Linked DNA regions of Homo sapiens. The protein of the gene in region 1 interacts with the protein of each later gene in a biochemical or structural test. Each region holds a gene or a part of one and is shown on either strand. Other genes may lie near its edges.

The links.
Region 2: the proteins of SYN3 (region 1) and NOS1AP form a complex in vitro, tested with the Homo sapiens proteins (one study listed by BioGRID).

The regions. Positions count from the first base shown.
Region 1 is NC_000022.11:33,055,208-33,063,368, forward strand, and holds the start of SYN3 (synapsin-3), read right to left. Parts: upstream 3,175-8,161; 5' UTR 3,085-3,174; exon of another isoform or gene 1,954-3,084; intron 1-1,953. UniProt on the Homo sapiens protein: May be involved in the regulation of neurotransmitter release and synaptogenesis.
Region 2 is NC_000001.11:162,352,456-162,360,056, reverse strand, and holds part of NOS1AP (carboxyl-terminal PDZ ligand of neuronal nitric oxide synthase protein), read right to left. Parts: intron 4,871-7,601; coding exon 4,704-4,870; intron 3,098-4,703; coding exon 2,921-3,097; intron 1-2,920. UniProt on the Homo sapiens protein: Adapter protein involved in neuronal nitric-oxide (NO) synthesis regulation via its association with nNOS/NOS1. The complex formed with NOS1 and synapsins is necessary for specific NO and synapsin functions at a presynaptic level.

The DNA.
Region 1 (8,161 bases):
CACATCAGGCTTAAAATCCTTCAATGATTCGTTTGTTGCACTTTAGATAAAAATGTAAGCTCAGCATGGCCTCCAAGACTCCACTGCCTTCAAACTCATCTCGGGCCACTCCACACAATTTGCCCACTATGCGCTCCAACCACAATAGCCTCCATTCCTCCACCTCGCGGTCTTTGAATAAGCTGTTCTCTCTGCCTCTTGATCTTGGCGTTGCCGGATCTTTCTCATTCCCCAGATCTCAGTGTAAATATCACTACTTTGGGAGACCTTCCCTGACTACACTGTTAAGCACATCCACCCTTCATTCATTTCACTCATTTAAGAAATATGTGCTAAACCCTGTGGTAGGCTCTTGGGATGAAGCAATGTATGATCCCCTGGAGTCTGCAGTCTAAAGGGGAGGACCAACAATAGGAAAGTAAATAAAATAGATAAATGACTGTTACGAAGGGAGAATAAAAGGGAGGGAGTACAGAAGGCCTTTCCAAGAAGGTTATATTGAAACTGAAGGCAAGGAGTCAATTGGACAAAGAGCCTGTTATTCTCTATCACATACTGGCTATGCAATGCAATGTTCCACCCCTCAACACTTGCTTTTGATGAATCCAAGCATTTAATGTCTATCTCCTCTAATAGACTGAGCTTTCTCCCCATCACCTAGGATAGCGCCTACTCCTTAAGAGACACTCAATACACATTGATTGATTAATTAGTGGATGAATGAATGATTAATCAATCAATCCACCAATGAAAGCACTTTGGAAAGTGTAACAAATCATAGAGTTGTGAGTGATTGTTATTATTATAATTATTATTTTGTGGCAAAAGAACATCAACTTGGTTGGGTTTTGGAAGAGACTGGGTTTACTATAAAATGAGAATAAAAGTACCTAAGTTGGAGTATTATTGGACAACTAGAAGAGAATGTATATACATAATAGACACTCAAAAAAGGGAAGCAGTAGTCTTCGTGGCTATTATTATTAAAAGCTCCTCACAAAAGCTGACTCAACTCGAATTCCAAAACTCATTTTCAGGTGCAGTCATGAAACTTAAAGGTGAGAGAAATGAATACTTTTAAGATATCTACTATGCACCAGGCACAGTACAAAGCACTACTTCATTTGTGAGGTAGTGTAGTGGATACCGTGGGGAAATGCTCAACTCCCCCTCCAAGACCAAGACACTCATGACTTCCCCATGTCCAGCTGCCAGAGTGTTGGTTACCCCAGCTCCCAGGTGAGTCCCTAGTCAGGAACTGTCCTGCTGAAGGGACATCCTAGCTCCCTCCCTAGGACCAGCCTGCACCCACTGGCTGATCAACATTAAGCTTCAAAGGCCTCGTCTCTTTGTCTCATGGGAGGGATTGAGACCTCTCTTGCACTGCACCATAGATCAACATCTCCCTCTGCCCAGTTCTGCTTCCCTTATCTGCACAAAAATCTCAGAAGCGCCAAGTCTTTTTCCAGGGAACCCAAACCATGACAGGTGAGTACAATGATTTCCTTTTAAATCAGAAAAAGAAGGTTCATGAAGGTTGCTAATGTCCCCAAAGCCTATGGCTAAAGTGACTTTCTGGTCTGATTTCCCAGCGAGCCCTTGTTCTTTCTACTACACCAATCTACACACAGCCTTGCCTCCAATGGCTGAGACTGGATCTCTGTGAAACAGAAAGGGGAGCCCAGGCAGAGGGGAAGGGCACACAGAGGGCTTGAAGATGAGAAAAGAAGAGCAGAGGCACCCTTCAGAGGCCTGATGACAAGACTGAGGTCACAGGCTCCAGAAACAATATCAAAATGATGTGCAGGCTGCAGAAGCAAGCATTACACGGGCAGCATCTCTTTGCCTGAATCCATGTCCAGAAGCCAGGGAGCAGGGCTCCCGGGCAGAGGGGGCTCCCTTAAGCAGGGAAGAGTATTTGCAGCCAAGGACCAGAAAACAACTACAACTTACCAGCTTTCTGATGCTCCGGCCTCCATCCATTGTCCCCAGAGCTGCCAGAGGGACCTGATCACTGATCAGAATTCTTCCACGGCCCTCCTTCATTCCAGGATAAAATTCTAAATATTCTAAGGCTGCACTTTAAGGTCTGTGCAGGTTTTAGCTTCCTGCCATGTCGAGAGCTCATTTCCTACCTACAGCAAGACCCGGTCCTACTCCATTATCTGCTGTAGAATTATCTGATGTGCTAGGTCAGGACACCGGACCTTTTCAGTTTCTTTACCTTTACACAAGAAAACCCACCTGGAATTCCTGCTCCCTATCAACTCACAGTCCCAACACACTTTTCAGCCTGGCAAAACCTCCGACTTCCAGTCAATGCTCACCTCCTCTCTGAAACCTTCCTGGCTTCCTCACCGTCCTCTTCTCCATCTCGAGTCTTCCGCACTACCCTGCACTGCAATTGCTCCTCCTACTGTCCCTCTTAGCCCCAGAAGCTCCCCAAAGGCCATTCTTCATGCTGCTAGGGCTTGGCACAGTTCCTGGCACTCAGAAAAAGCCAAGTAAGTGCTGGATAGATACACGAGGTGCTGTATCCATAGCTATTCTCTGCTTCTAGCTTGGCCAGGAAACCACTCTGAAATTTCATCCTGCCCCCAGGATGACTGGAAATCGGAAATGGCATGACAAACCTGACCTCCCAAACCCAAGGCAACAGGTCATGAGGGGTCTGGGGACCTAAGGCAGGTCCTAGGAGCCGGCGCAGAGCAGAGGTCCGGCCGCTGCGGTTCCTGGTTTCCCGCAAGCTCTTCCCCGGGCCGGGCGCTGGGTGGAGGCAGTCTTAGGATCCACAGTCTTGCGCGCCCCCGGCTCCCGGGCCCGGCAGACGGCCCCCGCACGCCGATCTGTCTGTCCCAGGGACCGGCCCAGGGCCCCGGCAGCGGCAGCCTGGGGAGACACCGTGGTGCGCGGCTCCTTGCCTCCCTCCCTGCCCCTCCGTGCGCCCGCATCCCGCGGACACAGAGCCGGAGCTCCAGGGGACGCAGCCCGACGCGAGAACGCACCAGCAGCCCCCGCTCGAGGTGGGGTCTCCCGGCTGTCAGAAACCCCACAAAGTCTACTTTGCGGCGCCGCGCCGCTTACCGTGCGAGCCGCCAGGAACTCGGCGCCCGGTGGTGCCTCGGCGCGGCGCCCGCCAGTCGATCCGCTCCGGGTCCCGGGAGCTCAGCCTCTGCCCCTCAACGCGCGCGAGCGCCCCCGCCCGGCGGCCCGGCCTCCCCGCGCCGCGGCGCCCCATTGGCTCGGGCAACGAGGCCCCCGGACGGCCCCGCCCACCCGCGCCCACTCCCTCGCCCACGCCTCTCCCCAACGCCTTGCTGGGTTCACCTCTCCAGGCAGGGAAAGTTGCTTCTAGACTCTGAGCTCTCACCGGACTCAGGAGCCCAGTTAGCTAATAATTCTGGGTCCCAGGAGTGTCTAGACGCCCCTCGGGGAGTGCGAAGAATGCAGTGTCCTTGGAATCCACCTTTGGGAAAGTCAGCTGACCTCCCGGACCTCAGGTGGCACCTCAGAGAAACCAGGGCCCCTTGTCAGGAAATGTCCCAGGTTGTGGGCTAGGCCCTAGGGCCAGGATGCAACAGGGAACAAGACAAAGTCTATCGTCCTCGTGGACTTTGCATGGGGTGGAGGTGGGGGTAGGTTATATACAACAAACGAAAAAAACAAGAGAATGTCGGCTGGGTGCCTGTGGCTCACGCCTGTAATCCCAGCACTTTGGGAGGCCGAGGCAGGTGAATCACGAGGTCGGGAGTTCAAGACCAGCCTGGCCAAGATGATAAAACCCCGTCTCTACTAAAAATACAAAAATTAGCTGGGCATGGTGGCCCTCACCTGTAGTCCTAGCTACTCGGGAGGCTGAGGCAGAATTGCTTGGACCCGGGAGGTGGAAGTTACAGTAAGCCGAGTTAGAGCCACTGCACTCCAGCCTGGGCAACAGAGCTAGATGCCGTCTCCAAAAAAAAGAAAAGAAAAAGAAAGGGGTCTAGGACTGCTATACCTAGGGTGGTCTCCGGGCCGCTTGTGATATTGGATACTTGGAGGACAAAAACGATTCCAGGGCTGAAGCAAGAGCATTGCTGACAGAGGGGTCGGCCGATGCATGGTTCTGAAGCTGGAACTGGCCCCCAGGGTGGCTGAGTGAGGTGAGCAAGGGGAGAGTGGGTTACAGCCAGAGAGGTAGACTAGTGTGGAATCACCATCACCCAGAACCTTGTAGGCCACCGTGAGGGTCAGGGCTTTGTCATATCAATCTGGAGGGAACAATTCAGGCAAGAGATTATGGTGATGAAGACCAGGGTGGTGACAGCAAGATACGGAAAAGGTGGACCTCCTGCAATGTGTGTCAAAAGTAGCACAGGAAGGCTTGATGATGGATTAGGCTGGATTTAGGGGATGCTATGGTTTAAATATGTTCCCCAAAGTTCATATCTTGGAAACTTAATCCCCAATGCAACAGTGTTGAGAGGTGGGACCTTTAAGAGGTGATTCCATTAATGCCAGGAGTGGCCCTCTCCCCACCCCTCTGCTGCTCTCTTGTTCTGCCTTGTGCCATGGGGTGACTCAGCATGAAGGCCCTTACCAGATGCAGCCCCTCAATCTTGGACTTCCCAGCCTCCAGAGCCATGAGCTAAATAAATTGTTGTTCCTTATAAATTACCCAGTCTGTGATATTCTGTTATATTGGCACAAAATAGACTATGACAGGGGTTGACGTAAAGGGATGAAAGAAGAAAATCTCCTAGGTGTTTAGCTTGAGCCACTGTGGAGTAATGGTACTATTTCCAAGATCGGGAAGGTTCTTACCCAGCATCTTCCACTTACTGCATGAGCGTTAGTACATGATCTCAGTAACTAAGAGGGAGTGACTCTAACCTCAGTAACTAAGAGGGCATAAGACTAGCTGAAGGATCACAAACTTTAATACCGACGTGGCCGGGTAGTCATGTACTAAGTGAGGTTGGCAGGGTATAATAGAAAGGAGGGATGGGGCTTGTGACAGACTGAGGTATGCACACCTGCCTAAGGTGACAGTCACTGCTCAGCTCCAACTGATTTTTGCCATATGTGAATGGAGACCCACCCAGAGTTGCCAGATGTTCTGTTTTTTGTTTGTTTGTTTTTTATCGAGACTGAGTCCTGCTCTGTCACCCAGGCTAGAGTGCAGTGGTGCGATCTCAGCTCACCGCAACCTCCGCCTCCCTGGTTCAAGCAATTCTCCTGCCTCCCAAGCAGCTGGAATTACAGGCGCCCACCACCACGTCTGGCTAATTTGTGTATTTTTAGTAGAGACAGGGTTTCACCATGTTGGCCAGACTGGTCTCGAACTTCTAACCTCGTGATCTGCCCACCTTGGCCTCCCAAAGTGCTGGGATTATAGGCGTGAGCCACCACACCAGACCCTGATTTTTATTAAGAGGCCAGAAATTCAGATTATGTTAAATCTCTGGTTTTTTTAAATGCTGGTAATTAACTACAACTTTTTTTTTTTTTTTTTCTGAGACGGAGTCTCGCTCTGTCGCCCAGGCTGGATTGCAGTGGATTGTCGAGATTGCAGTGGTGCAATCTCGGCTCACTGCAAGCTCTGCCTTCCGGGTTCACGCCATTCTCCTTCCTCAGCCTCCCAGGTAGCTGGGACTACAGGCGCCCGCCACCACGTCCAGCTAATTTTTTGTATTTTTAGTACAGATGGGGTTTCACCGCGTTAGCCAAGAGGGTCTCGATCTCCTGACCTCATGATCCGCCCGCCTTGGCCTCCCAAAGTGCTGGGATTGCAGGCGTGAGCCACTGCACCCAGCCAATTAACTAAAACTTTTTAAAAGACTGTATTGGCCAAGACTGTTGGACAAGATCAAACCCATGTATGGGCTGGATTTATCCCCTTAGGGACTATTTCCACCTCTGGATTAGACAATACCTCCAACCTTTTAAAGAAACCCTCATAGTGTCTGTCCAGATTGGATGAGAACAATAATGGGAAATAAAAGGATCAAGGAAATCCCAAATGAAAAACCCAGCATAGTCTTTAATGGCATTTGGCCCGCCCCTACCTCCATCTACCTGACATATATCTTCTAAGCCTCAGTTTCCCTCAGGCTAGAGCACAGCTCCTCCAAAACTCCTCCCAACTGTAACCTTTGGAGCTGTAACATCATCATAATTTTTCTTAACTACTGGTTTTCAAATATGCACAGGAATGTTGCTTGGGGAAACATGGAAGGTGTGTATTCATGTCTGGGTCTGTAAATCTAAAAGGCCTCAGTGCTGTCAGTCTGAAGCAAGGAAGGAAAGAGGAAACAGAATGGCATAGAGGTTTAGATGAAAGCCAGATAAATTATTGCATGGAAAATTATTTTTTATTGCACTCTGAATAAGAAAAAATGGCAATTAGATGCAGGAGTGCTTAATGGTTTCTACTGAAAATTCAATGTATTGTAGCCACTTCTCAATATATATCACCAAGGGTTTTGCAGTAATGAGGTTCTCCCATCATGCATTGGAGGTCAGCTGCATTCTAGCATTATTTATTCTTATGTACTGATCTCATGTAATCAAAAAGGCCTGAAAACAGAAAATCACTTTCTGTAGAGTCAGTCCCTTTTACTCCTATCTCCTCCACCTTAGACATCATTTAAAGCTGGAGAAATGGCTTATGATTTTATAAATTGCTGGGTTTTGTGTAGGAGGGTCAACATGGATTAGGAACCAGGAGACCTGAAACTAAGTCCTTGAATAACTTCTCTGAACCTTCTTCATCAGTAGAATGAGAGCTGACAAAAGGTGGCTTCCTAGAAGACTTGTTTATTTCTATTTGTACTCCATGTTTCTTTTGGGGGATTTTTTTTTTTTTTTGTATGGTGACCTGGCAATTCCCAGGGACAGATTCTTGCACAATTTGCCACTCCCCAACTACTCCAAAAATCCTTGAAGAAAGGATGTTGTCTAAGTTGAGCCTATTGGATGCTCACTCCTGGGACTTTCCCTCACCCGAAAGTGACAAAGATGAAGAGAGAAATTGGACATACTAAGACTGCTTGCTTACAGTAATGGTGGTGGCAGCAGTTTCCTGGACTCTTGGTCATGAATCTTGCCGCCCAACCTCGTGAATTTCCTAGATTTCTGTTTCTCAAGTTTGGTCCTGCCATCCCTGTCCCCTACCCAATTTTATTTTGTGAGTCTCCCATCTCTGTTAAAACTGTCTTCTTGTGTTAGCTACTCCAATTATTTCTCTTGCTTTTAACCAAAAATCCTCATGGATCTAGGAAGAAAAGAAACATATTGCATCATATGATCCTTTCCCCAGGGCAACAATTCAGCGCAGGAATTTGCATACAGATGGATGCACACACGGTGATAGGTATACATGTTCCCTCACTACTCAGTAAGAAATCCAACCCCATGGGGTGGCGGTGGTAGTGTTTAAAAGGTTATTTGTTTTTGAAAAGAACCCAAGTCTGCTATTCTTAACAGATTTTTTTTTTAAGTGAGCAGGCTCTTATAATAACAAAACCACTCTAGAAATAGCCCTCTCGTATGTAAATTTTGTAGTTTTTCAAAGTACTTTCATATAAATTCCCTCATTTCATATGCACTCCTGCGAAGTAGGCAGAATAGATAGTATTCACAGTTTATAGATTATTATAATCATAGCTACCATTTACTCAACACATGTTATGTACCAGGCACTGCTAAATGCTTTATATACCCATATGCCGATCTTGTTAAGGAGGTATTATTATCCTCATTTTATAGCTGAAGAAATGGAGGGTGGCCCCAGGTCATATAGATAATACATAGTTGAGGTGAGAACTCGAACTCAGTTCTGTCTGACAACAAAGGCCATGTGTGATTTTAGCACACACAGCTTCGTGTCATGTAACACAGCTGGTGAGTGACAGAGCTATACCTGGGACCTAGGCCCTAATTCAGGACAGTTTCCACTTCATTTAGCTAAGACTTAACCATACGGACCGAAAAGAGTGGAGTCTTTTTGGTTGTCCATCCAAAGCAAGATTTTTAAGGTGATAGAAAAAGCTCATTAATATTTTCCCCTACATAACTATCATGGTGCCTAAACTCCATATCATTAAAGATGAATTGCTAGGTGTGAAAACTGATGGGAGTGTGGGTACAAATTCAAACCTGTCCCTGAGGGGTAAAATGC
Region 2 (7,601 bases), on another chromosome or scaffold:
GCAGAACTAGACTAGTCTGTGGGAAGAAATGGGGGTGGTGGGGGGGGGACGACATAAATAGTGCAACAAGTGACATCAAGGGTACACTTGTCTGCAAGAAACTGTCTTTATCCTTAGATTTTTATCCAGGAACAACATAGGAGGATTTGGATGCTCTCCGAGAGAAGGAAACTATTCCCACCTGAAAGGCTGAGGTCATAGTTTTACTCACTGGAATTCTGGGGACTGCTGGTAGTTTAATAAAGACAGACAGAAGCCTTGCAGTTTGGTGGCAATAGAGTCTGACAGAACAAGTAAGAGCTGACCTCGTGCTGGAAACTGAAATCAGCCCCCCCCCGCGTAGAGAAACCAAGCTTGCTATACTTGGTCTATTTCAAATGTGTGAAAGATGCCAAGAAGACCCACCTATTAATCCAGCTACATCTTACGTAATTGTTTTTACCCAAGGATATAGACACTAGTAAAAAAGCCCTTGAATTAAACACTACAAAGAAAGTGGAAGAATGAACAGTGTGCGGAGAAACCTCTAACTGAAGGTCAGTTTAGGACCGAATCCGTCTGCAGGACAGGAGAGCTGAAAGCCAGCTGAAATGTACAATATCCCTGCTGTGGTCCTGGACAGCAAAAGCAAGATGCGAACAGAAAGAAGGTAGTCAGAGACAGATGGGCATGGCAGACAGAGGTACAGGAGTATGTTCAAGAACCTATCAGATGACCCCAACGTCCTATCTGATGATTTTGGAAGCCTAAGACTCTCCCTAAAGTCATCTCACAAATGTGGGACACAGATGCAGTATGGTGGCCTTTTGATCACCACACTGCTTGTATTGAGAGTCAAGCAGGGCAACTATATTCAACAGATTCCAAGTGAGTGAGAGGCTAAGGGTGCTCAGCCTGTGGACATGTGGAACCGAGAGAGGCTCATGAAGCAAATCTCTAATACCACACCCTTTCCTTCCCCTAGATTCATTGTCTTCTAGGAGAGACACAATTAAAACAGGGCCAGGGCAGGATTTCCCATGGAGACTGACAATTGATTCTATACCAGAAAACTACTCTTAAGGTTTCATCCTGACTGTAGTAGACCTGTGATAAGTTACATGTCTTGTTGCTTTGGAGATTGAATGCTTCCTTCCACCGCCACAACACTATTGTGTGGATTACACATTTGCAAATAGTTTCTCTCTAGTACTTAGCAGTGACTTCGAATTCAAATGCCTCCCTGATAAAATCATATCATGAATATGCATCAAGCCCACTCTTAGATAAATAATAATTACTTGGCAATTGATACGCTGCAAAATAAAAGTATTATGTTCTGTATTCAATGGGAAACTTGTGGAAATGAAATGAGTCTGAGAATGGACCCGTGCTGCAGTGCTTAGTCTTTGTGCTCCTGTCAACTGTCACACTAGGGAGGGGATTCTCAGACTGCTGTGCCATCATTAACTACAGGAGATGGATTCTTTTATTTGACAAAGAGAAATGATTTTTTTTCTCCAAATATAAGAAGCCATTAATGACATTCCCCCTCTCTGTTGCTGTTTTGGGAACACCTGCAAATCCTCCTAGCATCACGAGATATCCTTTTGTTTCATGGTAAGACTTTTTAAAAAGACTCCGATAACTTGAGAGCTGTGTCCCATTGACTCTACTCTCCTGAAACCTGGCTGCAAAAGTCATCCATGAGCCTTGCATCTCAGGCCCAGGTCAGGAGAGACCGTGTTACAAGAAGGTCTTCTTCAAACCCTGAGTCATAGCAGATCCTGTTATGGCCAGGACGCCGGATGCCTCCTCAAGGTGGAAAGGTGGAAAGGATATCTCTGGCTGGATGATTCAGTCCACTCAAGAGCCAGGACAAGAGTAAGCAGAAGACATAACAGAGAGCAATAAGTGCTCCCTGGAGAAGTCTGCTCCCCGCCATTCTAGAATGCAGAAAACCTAAGTGGTCAACAGTCTGGTCAAGCAGATTTAGAATGTTGATGCAGGCTGCCTTTCCAGATCCTTTACCAATTCTTCCAAGCCCCAACTGCCCCGTCTCCTAAGATCTTCATGCACTCATCAGGCCCTGACCCTGCCTCTCGCCTCAGGATTCAGCCTTGGGTATGAATGAATGTCTTCACCATTCCCTGAGTGCTGGTGGTAGAGAGGGAGCTCAGACTTCCCAAGAAAGATGTGGACTACAGCGCCCTCTATAGAAAGCAAACAAGAAGAATCCCTGCTGAAAGCAGCAAGGGAAATCAGCTCACCCTCCCCTATAATGTAGCAGCCCCCGAACAAGTTTTTTGGGGTACAAACACCACCTTGATTCTGAGATCTAAGCCAATTCTTTTCATTATGGCTCAAATAATACACCTAAATTCCTGTAAGTTAAATCCTACAATAATGAATTCCAATCAAATACTGCCTGGAATAAGTAGATCGTAATGAAGGCTGGGAAACCTGTTATAGACACGGAGACTGGGATGCTAGGGTAGTAATCTTTTTACAACAGTGTTTGGCACAAATTCATACTTTAAGCTGTTTTAAGAGTGGTATCATAAAGCCACAACTGTTCTGACTCCAAAGGCATCACTTTCCACCCCAAATATCAGGAAAGTAAGGCAGGAAAGGAAGGGTGGAATTGTGTGCATCTTTTCCCTTGGTCAGTTCAAGTCATTAACAACATTCAGCCAAGCCAGCCAAGCCCAGCTCAGAGCAGGGGATACATGGGAAACCAAAATGTGCCTCTCCATTTCAACTGCATCCCCCATCTATCCCCCTCCCGCTGCCCCCACTCCCCAACAAGCAATGATCCAATAGCATGAGCGATTCCTTATGACTCCCTAGATTTTAAACCTGCCCTGAGCCCCTCGCTAGGGAAGGTGCATCAAGCCCATGAGAGTGGAGCCTGCGAAGTAGGGAGGAGGCTGAGGAGAACCTGGGCCACAGCCACTTGTGTCTGCTGCTGCTGCTGCTGGAGGAGCTGCTGGAGGAGCTGCATCTGGTGGTGAGTGGACAGCGGTGTCTCTGTGCCCAGGCCTGGAGGCTTCGAGGAAGAAGAAGGGAGCAGCATCCTGGGTGAGGCTGTCAGCATGGGCTCCTGGGGGTGCGAAACCTGGAGGAGAAGGAGAAGACAGGACATGACATGTGGCAGGAGCCATCTTGAGGGGCCTCCCTCTCTTTGGCATGCACTCAGGAGGAGCAAATTGGCACACTTACAACCCATAAGCTGACAGCACTATATCTTCAATGGAAATGGGAGTAGAGGCCCAGAAAGGAAATGGTGTAGCTGCCTGGGCTGATACCACACAGTCAGAAAATCGTAGGGGGACTAGGGGGACACCTCGGTAACTGACCCCGATGGGAGACTGATGGCTGATACTGCTCCATCTCTTGCCCACCACTTCCAATGATACCCTGTCACTGAGTTCCTTGAGGTTCTAGACTTAGAAGAATCTATTTTAGGAAAACGTAGCTTCCATCCACCCTACCATGATAACAGGAAGGACCCAGCTTCAATCCTCTACTCTGCTGTGTCCTTAGGGCTCCCTCCTCCAGGGTCTGAGATGTTCCTTCTCCCTTGTTGGGAGAAGCGTGGAGCTGGGTCCTGGAGGAAGGGGCCATGTGAGGGGGCTACCTCCTGCCCTCCACTGCCTCTGGTGAGAACCATCGGCAAAGAAGTTTGGATCCTAAAATATATAATGATCTGGAGAGATCCTCTTAGATGAAAGAAGTTCCTGTGTCCTTCCCTCCTTTCCTTCTGTCTCCCTCTCCTGTGGACATTTTTACCAAGATGGCTTCTACGATTCATAGAATTCCATGGCAGGGAAAGACATTTTGTTTCTGGCAGTTCTGCTGTGGGGACTTCTTCAGACATACACAAGGAAGGCCCCCAGTGACACAGGGCTGTTTCCACTTGTAGAGGATAAACTGGTTCCAAAGGAAACGTCAGGCAGCTAGTTTAGAACTGAACTGCCCTCCAAACCTCCATGTGAGATAAGATATGAATGTTAAAGAGAGAGAGGTGCCCTGATATAAACCGCCTGGGAATCTAAGGGTAGAGCTATTGGTCAGTAATTTTGCTTCTGGGTTTAAAACATTTTTAATTAGCTTTGGCTTCAGGTTGGAATTTGATCTCAAGTTCTTAGTTTCTTAATTGGATCACATTAGGAACCCCCAGATGCCACAGTCATCTCACCTATATGATGTTAGGTTAGAGCTGATGAAGACTAAGGTGGTCTCTCAGTTTCTGACATCCAGTGGGCCAACTTCCAGACTCCAAAGTGCTATCCACAGGAATTACCAACGGTATACCACCGCTACTGCAGGCAGAGCGGGCCCAAACTGACTTTGCTCTACTAGCTAAGTCACAGGGGAGTCTGTGTGTGTGTGTGCCAGAGTGAGCCTTGCAAAATACTGTGCAAAGATGAGATGCTGTTAAGGGAAGAGGGTGCCAGGGAGTAGGAGACCAAATATTGGTGGGATTTGGGGAGGGCGATGTGTGTCAGGAATCAGCTCCACAGCATCCTGGCCTGCAGCAGCATCTAGTGTTCAGACCCTCTGGAAGTCAGACCTTCTGAAAGGCAATGAAGTGCGCTCTGGCACCGCCACTGTGCCATGGAGTGCCTCACTCGGAAGCTGAGCTGGCAGGGGCTAGGAAGTGACTGATGACCTGAGGGCACACGTGTGCAGATCACACAGATGGGCCATCTCTTGCCTACCTTGGAGCCTGTGTGAGAGCCTCCTTCCTTCCCTACAGCATCTAGATCAGTCACACCTCGGCTGAATTCCAGGACATCATTCCCTGGAAGTGGGACCTCCACCGCATCGATGTCAGTCTCCTCTGCAGTGGCCGTGGAGGCCCTCTCGGCTCCAGTGAGCTGGCGGCCTGCAGGAACAACAGGGGAGGGAGGGAAGAGAATGAAAACACCGAGAACAAAGTCCTCCTTTCCTAATACTTTAGCTTTCAGGCATGTTGAGCCTAGGGATGCCACTGGCTTTGTAACATTTTCACACATCTTTTCACTCAAGTACGTTAAAGTGCATTTCCAGCCCAGTAAGATGTTCTCATCTTAGTATCTTTTCAAAGTCCAGAAAAAAAGGCAATACTTCCTCAAGCCTGGATGTAAAAGTTTTGCCAGGTTCACAGGAATATATTGACAAGGTACACTGGAAGAAGGGGATGCTGATCATCTCCATGTCATCGCAGCTCAGGAACGGAAGCAGTCAAGGGAAAGGGCCCTGGCCCGGGGGTCCAGAAATGAGGAGGTTGGGCCTCCAATAAACTGCTGGACAAGAAGCAAATCCCCTCACTCTCTGGGCCATGTTTCTTTAACTACAGAATTAGAAGCTCAGTTAGATGGACAGGTAGGGTTCCATGACTGAGGAATAAGGCAGGGAGATGTGAGGCTGCATTTTAACACAGTATCAATCTCCCAGCCCTCAGAGCCTGATCCTCTCACCAACAGCAGAAGCCAGGAAGACGCCTGCAGGAAGTGGCACGGGGAGGAGGAGAGAGATGGGGTGGCTGCTTTTCCATGCTTCCTTATCTAATTTTTCTACTTCCCACATTTCTTCCTTTCCACTGAAGACAATGGCCATGTCTTTACTTAATATTTAACCACAGGCACAGCATACTGCTTAATACCAATGTATGAAAGCCCTGCTATTTCCTACTTATCTTCCTTCCTTGATCCTATTTCTGGGATTCTGTAAAAACATCTGACAACTCCTGGGCATTTCATAGGAAATATTTTCATTTTCTATATTTGCAATTAGGTTAATTACTGCCGTCTTTAAATAAGATTTCTCATGAGTTTTCAGAGACCACGCACCAATTATAAAATGGAACAGGTGGATGTAAAGCAGGAGACACAGAGCTGATGCCCCAGTGCTGAAGCTAGCCCAGGCAACCAGGCCTTGGCCATTTGAGTGCTTGCCTTGTAGAACAAATTGTTCTAAGAAGTTTTCCTATGCAAACCTACACAAGTCATCAAGGGAAACAAGCCTGGCATTTAGAAAGTAAACAGTGGGCTTGGTTTTCTTCCTGGCTACTCCAGGAGCTGAGGAGACAGTCCTGTGGAGGGCTGCAAAGGCGTTTAACAGAAAAGATGGTTCTGACTGCAGCTAGTGGGGGCAGGGAAGGGGAAGCTCTTCTGCCCCTTGGTCAGCCAGTAGGCGGGGAGCACAGGGAGCAGCCTGCTTTCTACCACAGCCTGCACCTGGAAGTGACCGTCTTGATGGCTGGGTGCTTAGCCTGAGAGATGGAGGGTCGGTAGGTGGGTGGTGCTGGGAACTAAGCGTTTGGTTCTCCATGCCTGTACAGGAAAAAGCAGGGTGAAATTTCTATCAGTGATCAGGAGAAGCTGGGCTACTGCAGTGTTCTGTGCACTTAGCACATGATATTGGATGTGCCTGGCCATCAGTCTTCCCTTACAGACTTGAGGCCAGGCTGTGTCTCATTCATGTTTCCTAAAAATGTTTCTCTGGCACAGAGAAAGTGTTCCATAAATACTGACAAAGTAAGTAATGTAGTGACAGGGTAGCAAAACAGGAGAACAGGCTGCAGGAGAAGGCTGCTTATCTACTTCCCATCCCTGGAGATCCTAATAACAAGAACTAAGAAGCCCCAGACACAGAGGGTTTGGACAGGGCCTCGCCAGAAGCCCAGGTGGAATCAGAAAATTTGTCAGGTTTGGCCGGGCGCGGGGGCAGGGGCAGAGAGGCACAGAGGCAGGAAGTCCACGGCATGTCAGGCAATGCAAGTGGTCCCGTAGGGAGGGACCTGACCAGGACGAGTCAGCATTTTATCTTGAGGGACTGAAAGCAAGTAATACCAAAACATTTTCATCCTTCAAAATTTCACTCTAGATATAGTATGGAGGATAGATCCAGCAGCAATGAGAGAAAGTGATACTCTAGGTGGAAAATATGAGGGCTTGAGTGAAGACAATGGCAATAACATGGAGAAGAGATGGATTCGAAGGATCGTCAGGGGGCAGAAAGCACAGGGTTTGCTTGTCTGTGGTGGGGGCGGGGGTGGGGATATGTGCAGGATGAGTCTTAAAATATCTGATTCAGGTGACTGAATGGAGAATGGCATCCTATAGGAAAAATCCAGGAGAAGCAGGATTGCAGGTAAGAAGATGAGTTCAGTTTTAAACCTGTTGACATTGTAAGAGTCTGTGTAACAGTCAAGTAGGGATACCTATTAGGCTGTTGGGTATGTTATGGACTGAATGTTGGTGTTCATATGTCGAAGCCTTAGCTCCCAATGTAATAGCACTTGGAGATGAGCTTTTGGGAGGTAATTAGATCATGAGAATGCAGTCCTCATGATGGGATTCATGCCCTTATAAGAAGCGATGTAGGAGATCCCTCTCTTTCCACCCTGTGAGGACACAGCAAAAAGGCAGCTGTTTGCGAACCAGAAGAGAGTTCTCACCAGGAACCAAATTGGCTGGCACCTTAATCTTGGACTTCTCAGCCTCCAAAACTGTCAGAAATAAATGTTGTTTAAGCCATCCAATCTACTGCATTTTATTATGGCAGGCTGTGTAGATTACTATAGTGCATGAATGGAAAGTTCAGGAAAAAGGCCTGGCCTAAAGATAAACTTT